Homo sapiens: one gene and its partner. The protein of the gene in region 2 interacts with the protein of the main gene of each other region in a pairwise test. Each region holds a gene or a part of one and is shown on either strand. Other genes may lie near its edges.

Region 1 (7,029 bases), on a different chromosome or scaffold from region 2:
GAGCCTGTTTCCTCATCTTTAAAACAAGGATGACAAAATCTCTCTCTGAGAATCAGAGAGATTCAATGAGATACAACAGCAGCAGCAAAAGCCTTCTGGGCATTTCACCCTGCACCTTCTGTGCCTGATTTCACGGAAGCCGCACCATAGCCCCGTGAGGGAGTTCCAACGTTCTGTTTTACAAGGAGGGCACTCAGGCTCAAAGAGGTGGAAGCGAGTGAGCTCGTGGGCACACAGCGAGGAGGAGGACCTGGCACTGGAGGCCAGGCCTGGCTCACAGCAAGCTCTCCCTACCAAAGCACATTGCCTCTACCTTTCCAAGGTCACCGTGACCATAGTGGCTGACTGCTTATTACCCACAGGGCCACGGGCTAAGCACTTCACATGCGCTTAATCTTCACATGCACGAAGCCTAGAAGTGCGTGGCTCAGACACACTGGGTGCCCGATACACAGTGGGAGATCAGGACTGTCTGTCCCTTTCCCCCTCCCACTCCCACCTCTAGCACTTGGTTGACATCTCACTGCTGCTGACACAGCCAGTTCCCTGAAGTTCAGGTCAAGGATCACTGGCTGGCTGGTCAATGGCAATGTGTCATTTCACAGTAAAGTGTGAGGGGCATCTGGTGGGCATGACTACATGGCTGTTCCCTTTTCTGATCAGGAATGTTACTTGCCCAGAACTGGTTATCACAAGGAGGTGATGGAGGAAAGCAATGATGATGATCACCATAATAGTGATCATGATCATAACCAACACCTGGGGGCATTTTCTGTGCACCAGGCTCTGTGCTGGGCTCCTTACACACATTATGCATTTATTCTCTGCAGCAACCCTACGGAGTGGGAACTATTATTATCCCCAGTTTGCAGATGTAGAAACCGCAGCTCAGAGAAACTAATTGCATTCCCAGATCTCACAGGGGAGGTGGCAGAGCTGGGATTCCGAGCTGGCCTAACTCCAGAGTGGCCAGGGTGGGCATTCCTTCCCCACCCTGGCCACTGCTCCACTTTGGCCTCCAGAATGCCTGGCTTTTAGCCCTTATTAGGAAAAGCTCTCTCAAGAGTGGCGACCCTGGTAGGACCCTTCCCCTCCATGGGTCTCAGTCTCCTCCACTGATCAATGACAGCTTAGCCCTGATTTCTAAGAACTTTCCAAGTGTTGGATTTGTGGGATCAGGGGACACAACCAGGAAGAAATGTGGCTCTGGAACCTCACAGGTGTGTGTGGCCAAATGACGATGCGGTGGAGGCAGGGGATGCTCCCCTGAGTGCTCAGAGCACTGTTCTCCTGGCCAGGCCAGTGCTGGTCTAGATGAGTGGGTTCAGGGGCCAGCCCCATGGGGACACTGAGTCTCCTCACAGCTAGGCAGGCTCAGGCCTGGAAGGACTTGGAAGAAAGCCCAGACAATCCTGTGCTGGCCACACACATACCACACCCTGCCGCCCACCAAGCCCCAGGAATTTGAGAGTTATGGACAAGAAAAGTCCCTAGGAGCTGGCGGAAAGGCCTGACAGTGAGAGGACAGAAGGTCATGAAGGAGGGAGAGACACTTTAATGCAGACTTTCTGGGTGCAAAGTTGGGGACACAGCCCAGCAAGGGAAAACTCTGGCTCAGCAGCCAAATCCAGAAGCCAGAAACTGTCTATAGCCAAATCTGACAGCCCCCAGCATGGCTCATCCCCCAGGCTGAATGAGACAGAACCACAAGCTTAGCTGAGCAACCAGGAGGCAAAGGCTCCTCTCCAAGCACTGAGCCCAGCCCTCTGTACCTCCAGGGCCCATCCCTGCCCTCCACATAATGTCCAAGACCCTCTTTCCATGATCCTTTGTTCTGTGGCCCCTGTCGGCTCTCCCCACTTCCCTGGACCTCAGCCACACTGAACGTCCCCCAGGGTCCCCTCCGGCCCAAGCTCCTCCATGCCTCTGGGCCTTTGCACATGCGGTTCTCTTGATGTGGAACACCCTTCTTCTTGTCCCCTGTCTCTCCCCTAGAGCTCACTGCCTCCTCTTCTGGGTCCTCTAAGGTCAAGTTTCTCGCCTACTCCAGCTGCCCATTCCCCTGCAATGTAACTGCCCACACCCTGTGCTAAGCCACAAGCTCCCTGAGGGCAGGGATCATGTCAGCTCACTTCTGCAGTCCCAGAGCCAGGTCTAATAGGATGAATCCCCTCCCACAGGAAGGGACAGCTCTGAGGCAGGTGGCTCTAGGATCCCGGCCAGTTCTGCCCATGCTCACATTGTGATTCTGGATGAGCACTGCTCTGTCTGAGCCTCCGTTTCTGCAAGTGTGAAATGGAGGTCATCGCAATCACCCTCCCAGGGAGACTATGAAGGATGAGGTCGGAGAGAGGGCTGTGTACACAATGAAGTGCTGCACAAAAGGAAGTGATTACTGAGCCGCGCAGACTTCAGAGTCCGACAGACTCGCTGCATCCCTGGACAAGTCATGTCACCTCTCGGAATCTGTTTATCTCTTTACAATGAGAAGGCCATCTCTATGTCCACAAAGTGGCTGGGAGGTGTGAACCAGATGCCATGTGAGAAGTAGCTGCCTTGAACAGAAGGAGCTCAGCAAACGGCAGCTCTTCCTATGGATGTGACAGTCTCAGCGGCGATGGTGTTCCTGGGGCATGCTCACTCACTACAGATTCTGCAGGATTTTACGTTAGGCACTACCATTTATTTACAAATGTATCTGTCCAGGGCTGTCTGTACCTCCACACCATACACATTCTCCTGTGGTGCCCGGCACAGAGAGCTCAGTACATACTAGGTGTACTGAGCTCAATCAGGAGGCTGAGCCAGAGGTACCATCCTAAAGGAGCTGTCCCCACCCCGGCTGCCCGTTAGAATCACACAGGCTGAGTATTACACTCGCAGATCCCTATATCCCACCCCAACAGACTCTCTGAGAGCGAGGCTTAGGAATCTCTGTATATTTACAAGCTGCCCAGGTGATTCCGAGCACACCAAGACCGGGATCTGCTGAACTGGAGGGCTCCTGACTCCAGCCCTAATGCTCTGACCCTCTCCCTCCGAGGGACTGCCACACCCACTGACCTCCAGGGATCCCTGCTTCCTACTGGGTGTCCTCCAACCCAGCAGTCTCTGAAGACTGCTACAGTGATGTTTCTGCAGCAGGCCCTCCAGGACCCCACACTGCCGCAGCATAAAATACAGACTCTTCCACCTGGCAGCCTCAAGGCTCTCGCTTTCCTCCTCTCATCCTCCCAGACATGCCTGCCAACAATGCTGAATGGCTCAGGGTTCCCTGAGAGCTCTGGTGTCTCATGCCTTCCCTGATGCCTCAGCTTTCAGGCCTGGCCTTAGAGGTTGCCTCTTCTGGGAAGTCTTCCCTGCCTCTCTCCTTTGCCCCCTTCCCCCTCCCCAGCTCCCATGGCTTCCCCTGTCACACTGTATTGTAACTGTTGGGATCTGCCTCCCCCTCCAGACTCTGGCCTCCTCAAGGGTAGGGACCACACTTTACTTGTTTCCACTCCTAGCAACAGATTCATGGATGCTGGGCACAGACAAGACATAGGAAATGTCTCCAAATAAACAAGTCAGTGAATTAAAAAATGTAAGGTTCGGCCGGGCACGGTGGCTCACGCCTGTAATCCCAGCACTTTGGGAGGCTGAGGCGGGTGGATCACCTGAGGTCAGCAGTTCAAGACCAGCCTGGCCTACGTGGCGAAACCCCATCTCTACTAAAAATACAAAAAAATTAGCTGGGCATGGTGGTAGGCGCCTGTAATCCCAGCTACTTCGGGAGGCTGAGGCAGGAGAATCACCTGAACCCAGGAGGTGGAGGTTGCAGTGAGCCGAGATTGCGCCATTGCACTCCAGCCTGGGCGATAAGAGTGAAACTCTGTCTAAAAAAAAAAAAAAAAAAAAAAAGCAAGGTTCTCATCCAATCTCTGACTTTGAGCTATCTGGGCCTCAACGTTCCCATTTCTAAAATGAAGGGTTGTCTGACAGCACTGGCTTTCGAGGCTAACTGTGAGGTGTCTTGGAGCTGGGAGGGAGGTAAGTCTCCTCCTCTCTCCATGGTTTCAGAGCAGCTCCATCCACCTTCATCTGCACTATGGACAAGTTTAAACAAAGGGTTGCATTGCTTCAGAAATAATACCTTGAAGCCCTGGAATGGGGACAGCTAAGCACCCTTTTAGAAGTGCAGTCCTAAAGCCTGAGACAACCAGAAATCCTGGCTCCACAGAGGAGGCCCTGCCAGTTGACCAAGGTCACTGGCTGGCCAGCTATCCCTGAACCCCATCAGCTCAGGATATTCACTCCCAACAGACAAGAATGAAAAGGAGAAACCAGTGAGATGATGGGAAGTGGGGTGATGAGTGATATAAGCCCTCCCTGGAACTTAAAGCTTGAGTAAAGGAAATTCACAAATCTAAGACAGAGCAGGGCAAACTGCCAGTGGGGAGCTGCAAGGAGGCCTTCGGAGTGGCCATGCACACAGAACACACTAGCAACCACCGCTCCAGTGACTGCTGTGGGGGTGCGGTGGGGGTCTCAGCAGGCCGGGCAGACAGGGTCTGCCACAGCGCAGCATGGTACCAAATGGTTAACAGAGGATGCTGCCAGAAACCCATCCCCAGCAGGGTGGCTCTGACCCACCAGACCCAACCTGGCTCCATTTACCTTCTCACCCCGGTTGGAGAGCGGCCCATCCATATCGGCTTTGAGGTGGACGGGGGGTGCGGTGTAAGGCAGCCGGCAGTGCACCTGCCCGCACTGTACCTGACCTGTGGACGAGAGGATGCCTTGGAGCTCATCCCCCAGGCTGCACACAGGATCCCACCTGCCCCGTGCTCTCTACAGACTGGAGCCCTGAAACCAGTTTCATCTCTGCCACTTACCTCCTGGGTAGCCCTGGGCAAGGTTTCAGTAGGGTTGGTTGTGATGATCTTTTTTTTTTTTTGAGACGGAGTCTCACCTTGTCGCCCAGGCTGGAGTGCAGTGGCACGATCTTGGCTCACTGCAAGCTCTGCCTCCCAGGTTCAGGCCATTCTCCTGCCTCAGCCTCCCAAGTAGCTGGGACTACAGGTGCCCACCACCACGCCCAGCTAATTTTTTGTATTTTAGCAGAGACGGGGTTTCACCGTGTTAGCCAGGATGGTCTTGATCTGACCTCATGGGGTTTCACCGTGTTAGCCAGGACGGTCTTGATCTCCTGACCTCATGATCTGCCCGCCTCGGCCTCCCAAAGTGCTGGGATTACAGGCATGAGCCACCGTGCCCGGCCAATTGTGATGCTCTTTATAAAGAGCTACGTGAGAGTGAGGTATAACCATCTAGCTCACTGATAAACACTCCTAAATAAATATGTGTTTTCATATTCATGCGCATGCAAGCAAGTCTGTACCCTGCCTATTCAGGCCCTGCAAGCAAGGCTGTGCCCCATCTATTCAGACCCTCCCTCAGTAAGTTCATATCTCTTAGGTATCACCATGACTTTACCCATGCCTCTTAGAGGACTCTGTACTCGTATGTCACCTCTCTCTTTACGACTGCAACCAACACCAACACCTATCTCCTACCCTCCCTGTCTTCCTCCCGGCTTTATTTCCTTAGCACTTATCATCTGACTTAACTGCATTTTTGTTTGAGACAGGGTCTCACTCTGTCACCCAGGCTAGAGGGCAGCGGCATCATCTCTGCTCAGTACAACCTCTGCCTCCTGGGTTCAAGTGATTCTCCCACCTTAGCCTCCTGAGTAGCTGGGACTACTGGCATGTACCATCATGCCCAGCTAATTTTTGTATTTTTTGGTATAGAGGGGGTTTCACCATATTGGCCAGGCTGGTCCTGAACTCCTGACCTCAAGTGATCTGCCCACCTCGGCCTCCCAAAGTGCTGGGATTACAGGTGTGAGCCACCACGCCCAGCCTGACTTACTGCATATTTTTATTATTTATTTGATATTATCTGTCTTTGCCAACTAGAATGCAAAGCTCCACGAGGGCAGGAATTTTTTGTATGTTTTCTAGATTCTAGATCTTTGTGGATTTCCAGCACCTAGAGTGAGGCATGGCATTTAGTAGGTACTCTTAAGTATGTGCTGAATGAATTTCTATACCATATTCCAACATCTAAAACTGTTGGGGAAAGTCCACCTTTGGGTCGGATCCAAATTTCTCATGCTTCAGCCTGTTTATCACTACAGCGGAGAAGTCCATTGCTGGTCTCTTCTTTAGGCTTCATTCTCTTTGGTCACAGGGAAAGGGCATTGTAGAGACACTTACAACTGATATATAAACCGGGACAATTCACTGTGCCCTTCTGAGCCACAGTTCTCCCATTTGTAGAATAAAGGAGTTATATTAAATTGGGAGTTCTTCACCTGGGGTGTTCAAGGAGTCCATATACAACTTCAGATTACTTGGAAAATGTATGTACATCTGCATTTTTCTGGGGTCTGGTTCCAAAGCTTTTATCAGATTCCAAGCTCGAAGCCTCCAGGAAACTCAGTATTCTGTGACTTTAGTTAACCGCAGAGCAAACTCTACAGAAAAACTCATTTTTCTGGGGTCTGGTTCTAACACTTTCATTAGCTTCCCAGCTTAAGGCTTCAGAAAATTCACAACTCCATGACTGTAGTTTACCATAGAGCAAACTGCTGTGGTGACTCTCAGTCAGTCATGCAGCAGGAGGTGCAGGTGCACACACCCCCAACCTCTTCTTCCCCAAGCTGAGTTCCACCACAAGGGTAAGAGGAGAGGGCACCTCAGCCTCTTCTCTAAGCAGCAAAGACAGATCTAAGTTTGGTCAACAGAGTGTATGGACAGAGTCCTGGCAGGGACTCTGGAGGTCATGGCCCCAAGTCCAAAGGGATCATCTAGATTTCTTATTGACTCTACACCAAGTATTAGCAGGTAGCTCAGACCCCTGGTACTTATAGCGCCCCTGATCCTTGGCACCTTTAACAGGCTCTGTGCAGCCTGAATATAGTTATTGTTTAGAAAAGAAAGGGGGAAAATGTCGCTCCTATTGAGCAGATAGTTCAGAAATGGA
Region 2 (7,029 bases):
AGTCCCTTGTTACAGGCCGGGTGCGATGGCTCACACCTGTAATCCCAGCACTTTGGGAGGCTAAGGCAGGCGGATCACTTGAGGTCAGGAGTTTGTGACCACCCCAGCCAACATGGTGAAAGCCCGTCTCTACTAAAAATATAAAAATTAGCTGGGCATGGTGGCACACGCCTGTAATCCAAGCTACTAGGAAGGCTGAGGCAGGAGAATCACTTGAACCCAGGAGGTGCAGGTTGCAGTGAGCTGAGATCGCGTCACTGCACTCCAGCCTGGGTGACAGAGCAAGAGTCCATCTCAAAAAAAAAAAAAAAAAAAAAAGTCCTTTGTTCCATAACCCTCAAGGAAGCCCTTGATTGCCACCACTGCCACTGCCACCCACGACTCTCACCGAGGCAGTCCCCTGATGTGCAGCCTGGGCTGCAAACCTGGCCACATGGTTGATGATGGGTGCAAAGTTGGTAGGGCCATAGAGGCGAACTTGGGGCAGGGCTTGGCGGTAGGCATCCACAATGCCCTGGATGCCTGCAGAGGAGAGCAAGAAATACCGTAAAATCCTGGACCTCTCAGGACTACACCAGTCCTGAAATCACCCCATCCCAGCCCAGGAGATCTCGGAACCTGGGTGCATTTCATTCATTCACCCTTGTAAACCAGGGTACTTAACTGTCTCCTACACATGAGGAAACTAAGGTTCAAAGAGAGGAGGGGACTTGCCCTAAATCACAGCTTGAATTAGCACCCAGATGAGAGGGATTCTCCTGGACAAATCCAGGAGAGTTTGAGCATCAGATTATAACCTATTTAATAATGATCCATTTGATACAATAAGGATCCGTACTATGGATTAATTACTGAGGGAGAAGGGAAAGCTCCTAATAAATGTAAAAGGAAGAATTACACAATCATTTGACAATCACAGAAATGACTGATTCAGGCAAGGATCATCAATGGATGTTAAAACTAGAGAGTATAGCCAGGCACAGTGGCATGTGCCTGTAGTCCCAGCTACTCACGAGGCTGAGGTGGGAGGACTGCTTGAGCCCAGGGGTTCAAGGCCAGCTTAGGCAACATAGTGAGACCCCCGTCACTTAAAAAATAAAAAAACTAAGGCCGGGCGCAGTGGCTCAGGCCTGTAATCCCAGCACTTTGGGAGGCTGAGGCGGGCGGATCACAAGGTCAGGAGATTGAGACCATCCCAGCTAACACAGTGAAACCCCGTCTCTACTAAAAATACAAAAAAAAAACTAGCCGGGCGTGGTGGTGGGCGCCTGTAGTCCCAGCTACTCGGGAGGCTGAGGCAGGAGAATGGCGTGAACCCAGGAGGTGGAGCTTGCAGTGAGCCAAGATCGCGCCACCGCATTCCAGCCTGGGTGACAGAGCAAGACTCCATCTCAAAAAATAAAAAATAAAAAATAAATTAAAAAAAAAAAAACTAGAGGGGAATGTTGATGTGTGTGTGATGAGTATTTGTATAGTCTCTTCCCAGAATATACTTACTAAATAGAAAGGAGAAAATAGTACTTGTATAGTGGAGAAACCTGGTAGATCTTACCTTAACTAAGTGACCAAAGTCAACATGACTGGTAATAGGACAAATCAACATCATGTTCCTCTGAATATGATGCACTGAGAATATACAGCATCACTTTGGTGGTATTCCTGCCAAAAATGTACAACCTGAATCTAATCCTGAGGATTTATCAGGTAAACCCAAACTGAGGGACATTCTAGAAAATATCTGGCCTATACTGTTTATATCATGAAATGTGAATGTCATGAAAGGCAAGAAGTCTTCCATATAAAAAGATATGTGCTAACTGAACGCAATGTGTGATCTGAGATTTTCTTTTGCTGTAAAAGACATTAGGACAATTGGCAACATCTGAATAAATGCTATAGGCTGGATAATAGCATAGATGTTCATTTCCTGATTTTGAGGATTGGTCTGTGATAATGTAAGAAAGAGTCTTTGATTTTAGGAGATACTGAAGTACTCAGAGGTAAAAAGCCAGGTGGATAATGATGGGTACAAAGCTGGTAGGGCCATAGAAGCAAACCTGAGGCAGGGCTATTCACTACAGCATTCTCCAACACACGTATACATGTGTGTACATACATAAACACATATTTTTAATCTTTTTTCCCTTGAAATGTGTGAATGTGTGTGTATATGTATACATGTGTACACACACACACACATATACACACACATACACACTGTATACATGTATGAGAAAAGAGAAAACAAATGTGGTAAAATGTTATGTTAGGGTAATTGGGATAAAGGTGAAGAGCCCCTGTGAACTCAGGCCCTGACCCCTGAGTTCCAAGGGACTGAGCTCCTATGACTATTCTTGCAACTTTTCTCTAAGTCTGAACTTATGTTGAAATACAAAATTAAAATTTTAAAACCCAGATCAGATCAGGTCAGGTCAGATTTTCCACTTCAGCTTGTGCCCCCTTGGGGGTACTGGGGAGTCAAAAGGTTTGGCCCTAAACAAAAGGGCTTGGTGGACTCTGGCAAAATGCACCCTGCAAGGAGGCAAACAAGGCTTCCACTGATGCTCAAGTAAGTACCTGTTAGCTTCTAGGCAAAGATAATAACGATAATATAACAGATACCATTTTTCGGAGAACACTTAGTAAGTACCAGGCTTACTGCTTTACTTGTATCCTCTCCTTGAGTACTCAATTTCCTATGTTTAGTCTTATGAAACCAAAGCACACAGAGATTAAGCAACCTGCCCCAAGTCATGTGGCATCATTTTTTTTTTTTTTTGAGATAGGTTCTCACTCTATCACCCAGGCTGGAGTATAGTGGCATGATCATGATCATGGCTCACCACAACCTCAACCTCCTGGGCTCAGGTGATCCTCCCACCTCAGCCTCCTGAGTAGCTAGAACTACAGGCGCCTGCCATCATGCTCGGCTAATTTTTGTAATTTTAGTAGAGATGGGGTTTTGCCATGTTTCCCAAGCTAGTCTCAAATTCCTGGGCTCAAGCGATCCACCCACCTTGGCCTCGCAACTGAGTGCTAGGATTACGGGCGTGAGCCACCACTCCTGGCCTGGCATGACGATTTGATTCCAGAGGCCTAGCTCTAAAATCCACCCTCTGGGTCAGGCGCTGTGGCTCAATACCTGTAATCCCAGCACTTTGGGAGGCCAAGGCAGGTCAATCACCTGAGGTCAGGAATTCGAGACCACCCTGGCCAACATGGCAAAACCCCGTCTCTACTAAACATACAAAAATTAGCCAGGCACGGTGGCAAGCGACTGTAGTCCCAGCTACTTGGGAGGCTGAGGCAGAAGAATTGCTCGAACCCAGTAGGCAGAGGTTGCAAGTGAGCTAAGATTGCGCCACCGCACTCCAGCCTGGGTGACAGAGCAAGACTCTTTCTCAAAAAATAAATTAAACTAAAATTAAATAAAATCCACCCTCTGGACAATGAAGGCAGGTATCTGCCCCCACTCTCCCTTTTACTCATGCAGGCTTGCCCCTCTTTGTGTGGACAGACCTGCCTCAGGGTGGATGGGGAAACTTACCTGCACAGTAGGGGTTACTGGGGTTGAAATTCAAGGCAAATTCATGCGAGACCTGGAGACAAGAATGAAAATGAGGTTCTTTCCCCATGACCTCTGCTAAGAATGAAAAAGGACACTGGCGTGTGCCAAGATTCCTATAGGAGCTATGGAGTCCTGAGCACTTGCTGTCTACGTGCCTGCAGGAATCCAACCCTGCATCTCCTCTTAAAGCTGAGTGCCAAGTAGCAAGTAAATTTACCACATCCCCCAAAATCAGGACCCTGAAACTGAAAACAGGAGTGGCAGAAAGAGAGGGAGCTCACCTGCCAGTCAGGGGGAACCTGGGCCCCAAATCCAAATGCAGGGAACAGCTTGTCTCTGTGGGAGGACAGTGTATTGGGCAAAAGGCAGTGAGGGGACTGTAAGCTCAGAGGCTGAAGCATCTGCAGGGAGCGGGTATAGCCCAGAGAAGCAGGTACTCACGAGTCATAGTCCTGAACCACGCTGCCCACACTCCACAGTGCCATCAGGTACTCATTGACCCCTGTTGGACTCAGGTAGTGTAGGGAGTCAGGTGAGGAGGGGTCTCCATTGGAGCCAGTGAAGTCCACGCCCACCTGGGAGGAGGTGAGGAAGGCAGCTAAAGGCCACCCTGAGCCCCAGACCTGTTCTCTTGCCCTTGGTAAAGTAACTTACAGTGAAGTTGATCTGACAGCCTCCCATCACATAGTCCAGAAAGGAGTACTCTGTTTCTACCTGCAAATGAAACCAGGGTCATGCCTGGGGTGATAGCAGTTGGTGTCATGGAGCTCAGGAATCAGAGCCTTGGTTACATGGGCTTTTGTCTCACCCGACAAATCTTGACACGGATAGTTCCAGAGTTCTTGTAGCTTTTCTTTTTCTGCTGCTTCTCAGGGTGGATGCATTCAAACTCAGCCTGGTGAGGACAGAAAAATTAGGGTAGGAAATTCTCAGAGCATCAGTCAAGGACTCGAGCTGCCTTCTCCTTCCTCTCTCCCACAAGCTTCAGCTATCTAGGCCCATTTCCACACCCCTGGCAAGACCAGCACTCACCGGGACTGCCTGCAGCTGGGCCAAGCTGGTGTGGAAGGTACCGATGAGATCATGTGACCCGTCACTGTCATAATCGGAGCATTGCACCTGAGGGAAAGGTGTGTGTGGACATAAACAAGCCAGGTGGCAGATGAGAATAAGTCCCTCCCCAGGTTCTCTTCTCCAGCGCAGTCCACTTAGGGGGCAAGCTCCTCACCTGGATGGGTGTGCTGGGGTTCCCACCACAGAAATGCTGAACGGGGACTGAGAAACGCTTCCATGTAGGGTTCAGGTTGTTCTTGATGACCTGAAGGTGGAGGCCAAGGCCTCCAGTGAGCTCTGGCATGGCCCCCTGAGGAGCTGCCACACTTCTCTACCCACCTGCAGTCTCTTTCTGAGTTCCAAACCTTGCTAGTCACAGGCCCCAGGAGATTATCTCCTACCCCAGCCCACCCAATCCCAGGGGTCTCATACCTCAGATCTGTACACCAGGTGCCATTTCCCATCACCCTGGCGGAAGAACTCCAGAAATGGATCTGATTTTCCCAGGAAGTCCTGCCAATGCGAGACCCCAGTTACAAGACTCAGGAACAAACAACCATTATGCCATCCCTCTGTCCACACCCCCATCCCCCATACACCATCCTTGGCCCCTTAACTCTTGGATTACCAGGGCCTACTTCCAGACACACCTTCTTATCTAGGTTTCTGGCCTCTACCTCCATGGTTACTACACGATTGTCCTTTAATTCCTGAGCTGAGACCTAGGTAGGGGAGACTACATCACCTCATGAATTCATTGATGTTAAGTCCCTCCTCAACCCTTGCTGGGTTCCTTACCGTGATGGTCCCCCGCCCAGCAGGTTTTCCAGGCTTCAGCATCAAGGGGAGAGTCAGTACCTGGCTGGACACAATCTGGGGAAAAGCAGGGAAGGGAGTTTCAGGATAACAGGCAGGGTTAGGTCCTGCTTGCCCCCTACCTCCAGGCAGGCTAGGTTGTCTCACAGACCTGCATCTGAAGGATCCTAATCCCCAGCCCTACATACCTGTCCTAGGGAACACTCAGCACCCCCTAGGAAGTCATCATCCCTCAGCTCTGGCGTCTTGTTGTCTATGTCATAGATTCCAAAGCGTAGCTTCTGGACTGTCTCAAAGCGGTACTCAAGCTGTAGAGTCTTGGAGAACTCAGGGCTTGAGCAGTTCCGCACCCGTTCAGTCCGGCCAAGCTGTGGGCAGAGGCCAGTAAGCATCACAGTCACAGCCTCCACCCCAAAACACAATCCTAGCCTCCCTCCACAACCTTAACCTCCATAATCCGCCTCACCTCAGCCCAGCTGCCCCCTCCCACATCCTGTAAAAGGACGCAGAGTGGGTCAGACTTGGAGCCGATGTCCTTGTCAATGAGATGGTCACAGGAAATGGACAGCTGAACCAAGGTCACGCAGTGGGCCATCTGAGGGAAAAGGAGCTGGGTCAAGCACCAGGGAGCCTTCTCTCCCCTTCCCCGACTACAGGTCCCAGCTTGGGAAGGCCAGCAGGCATCACCCAGGCAGGGCTGAGCATACGTCCACCCCCGTGACACCCAAGGAAGAGAAGGCCTCATAGCCTCCAAACCCCTCCACCCCTAGGTGAGCTCACTGGCACAGAAGATGGCAGATACAACCAACCCTGGTCTGAAGATATTGAAAAGGGGTACTAGCCTCCATCTACAACTGTGACCCCAAACTATCCTCACCCTAAAATTTGTCTTAATCCCAATAGGGCTGTCCAAACCCAGACTCTAATCTTGGTCTTTGCAAAGACCAATAAATCTTTCTGACCCCCTTACTGGCCCCAGGCCAGACCCTAATCCAAGTTCTGATCCTAACATAACCCCAAATATAACTATGATCCAGATAATATCCTCCACAAATTATCTTCTTCCAATAATTTCTCACTAACCCTGGGGATCTAACTCTTGTGGTGGAGTTATGATCCCCCTACTAATTCTCCTCACCTCTACTGCTAATGTTCAACTCCTCACTATTTCCACTGCTGCTGCCCAATCTAAGCCATCACTGTTTGTCACCTGGCTTACAGCATTAGCCTCTTCAACTGGTCTCCCTTATTCTATGCTGTCTCCACCTCCGTTCCCCCATGTCCACCCCAACAGGCTATTCTAAATACAGCAATCAGGGCGATCCTATTAAAACATAAGTGAGGCCGGACACAGTGGCTCATGCCTGTAATCCTGGCACTTTGGGAGGCCAAGGTGGGCAGATCACTTGAGGTCAGGAGTTTGAGACCAGCCTGGCCAACATGGTGAAACCCCGTCTCTACTAAAAAAAAAAATACAAAAATTAGCCAGGCATGTTGGCGTGTGCCTATAATCCTGGCTACTCAGGAGGCTGAGGCAGGAGAATTGCTTGAACCCAGGAGGTGGAGGTTGCAGTGAGCCGAGACTGTGCCAC

Evidence for each region.
Region 1: the proteins of CPNE1 (region 2) and LHX6 interact in binary tests that used the Homo sapiens proteins (3 or more experiments, as listed by UniProt).

Annotation. Positions count from the first base shown.
Region 1 is NC_000009.12:122,204,958-122,211,986, forward strand, and holds part of LHX6 (LIM/homeobox protein Lhx6), read right to left. Parts: exon of another isoform or gene 5,904-7,029; intron 4,761-5,903; coding exon 4,657-4,760; intron 1-4,656. UniProt on the Homo sapiens protein: Probable transcription factor required for the expression of a subset of genes involved in interneurons migration and development.
Region 2 is NC_000020.11:35,626,892-35,633,920, forward strand, and holds part of CPNE1 (copine-1), read right to left. Parts: intron 6,033-7,029; coding exon 5,904-6,032; intron 5,806-5,903; coding exon 5,626-5,805; intron 5,495-5,625; coding exon 5,420-5,494; intron 5,344-5,419; coding exon 5,272-5,343; intron 5,135-5,271; coding exon 5,054-5,134; intron 4,887-5,053; coding exon 4,797-4,886; intron 4,688-4,796; coding exon 4,601-4,687; intron 4,464-4,600; coding exon 4,377-4,463; intron 4,283-4,376; coding exon 4,223-4,282; intron 4,144-4,222; coding exon 4,010-4,143; intron 3,905-4,009; coding exon 3,850-3,904; intron 3,600-3,849; coding exon 3,548-3,599; intron 523-3,547; coding exon 389-522; intron 1-388.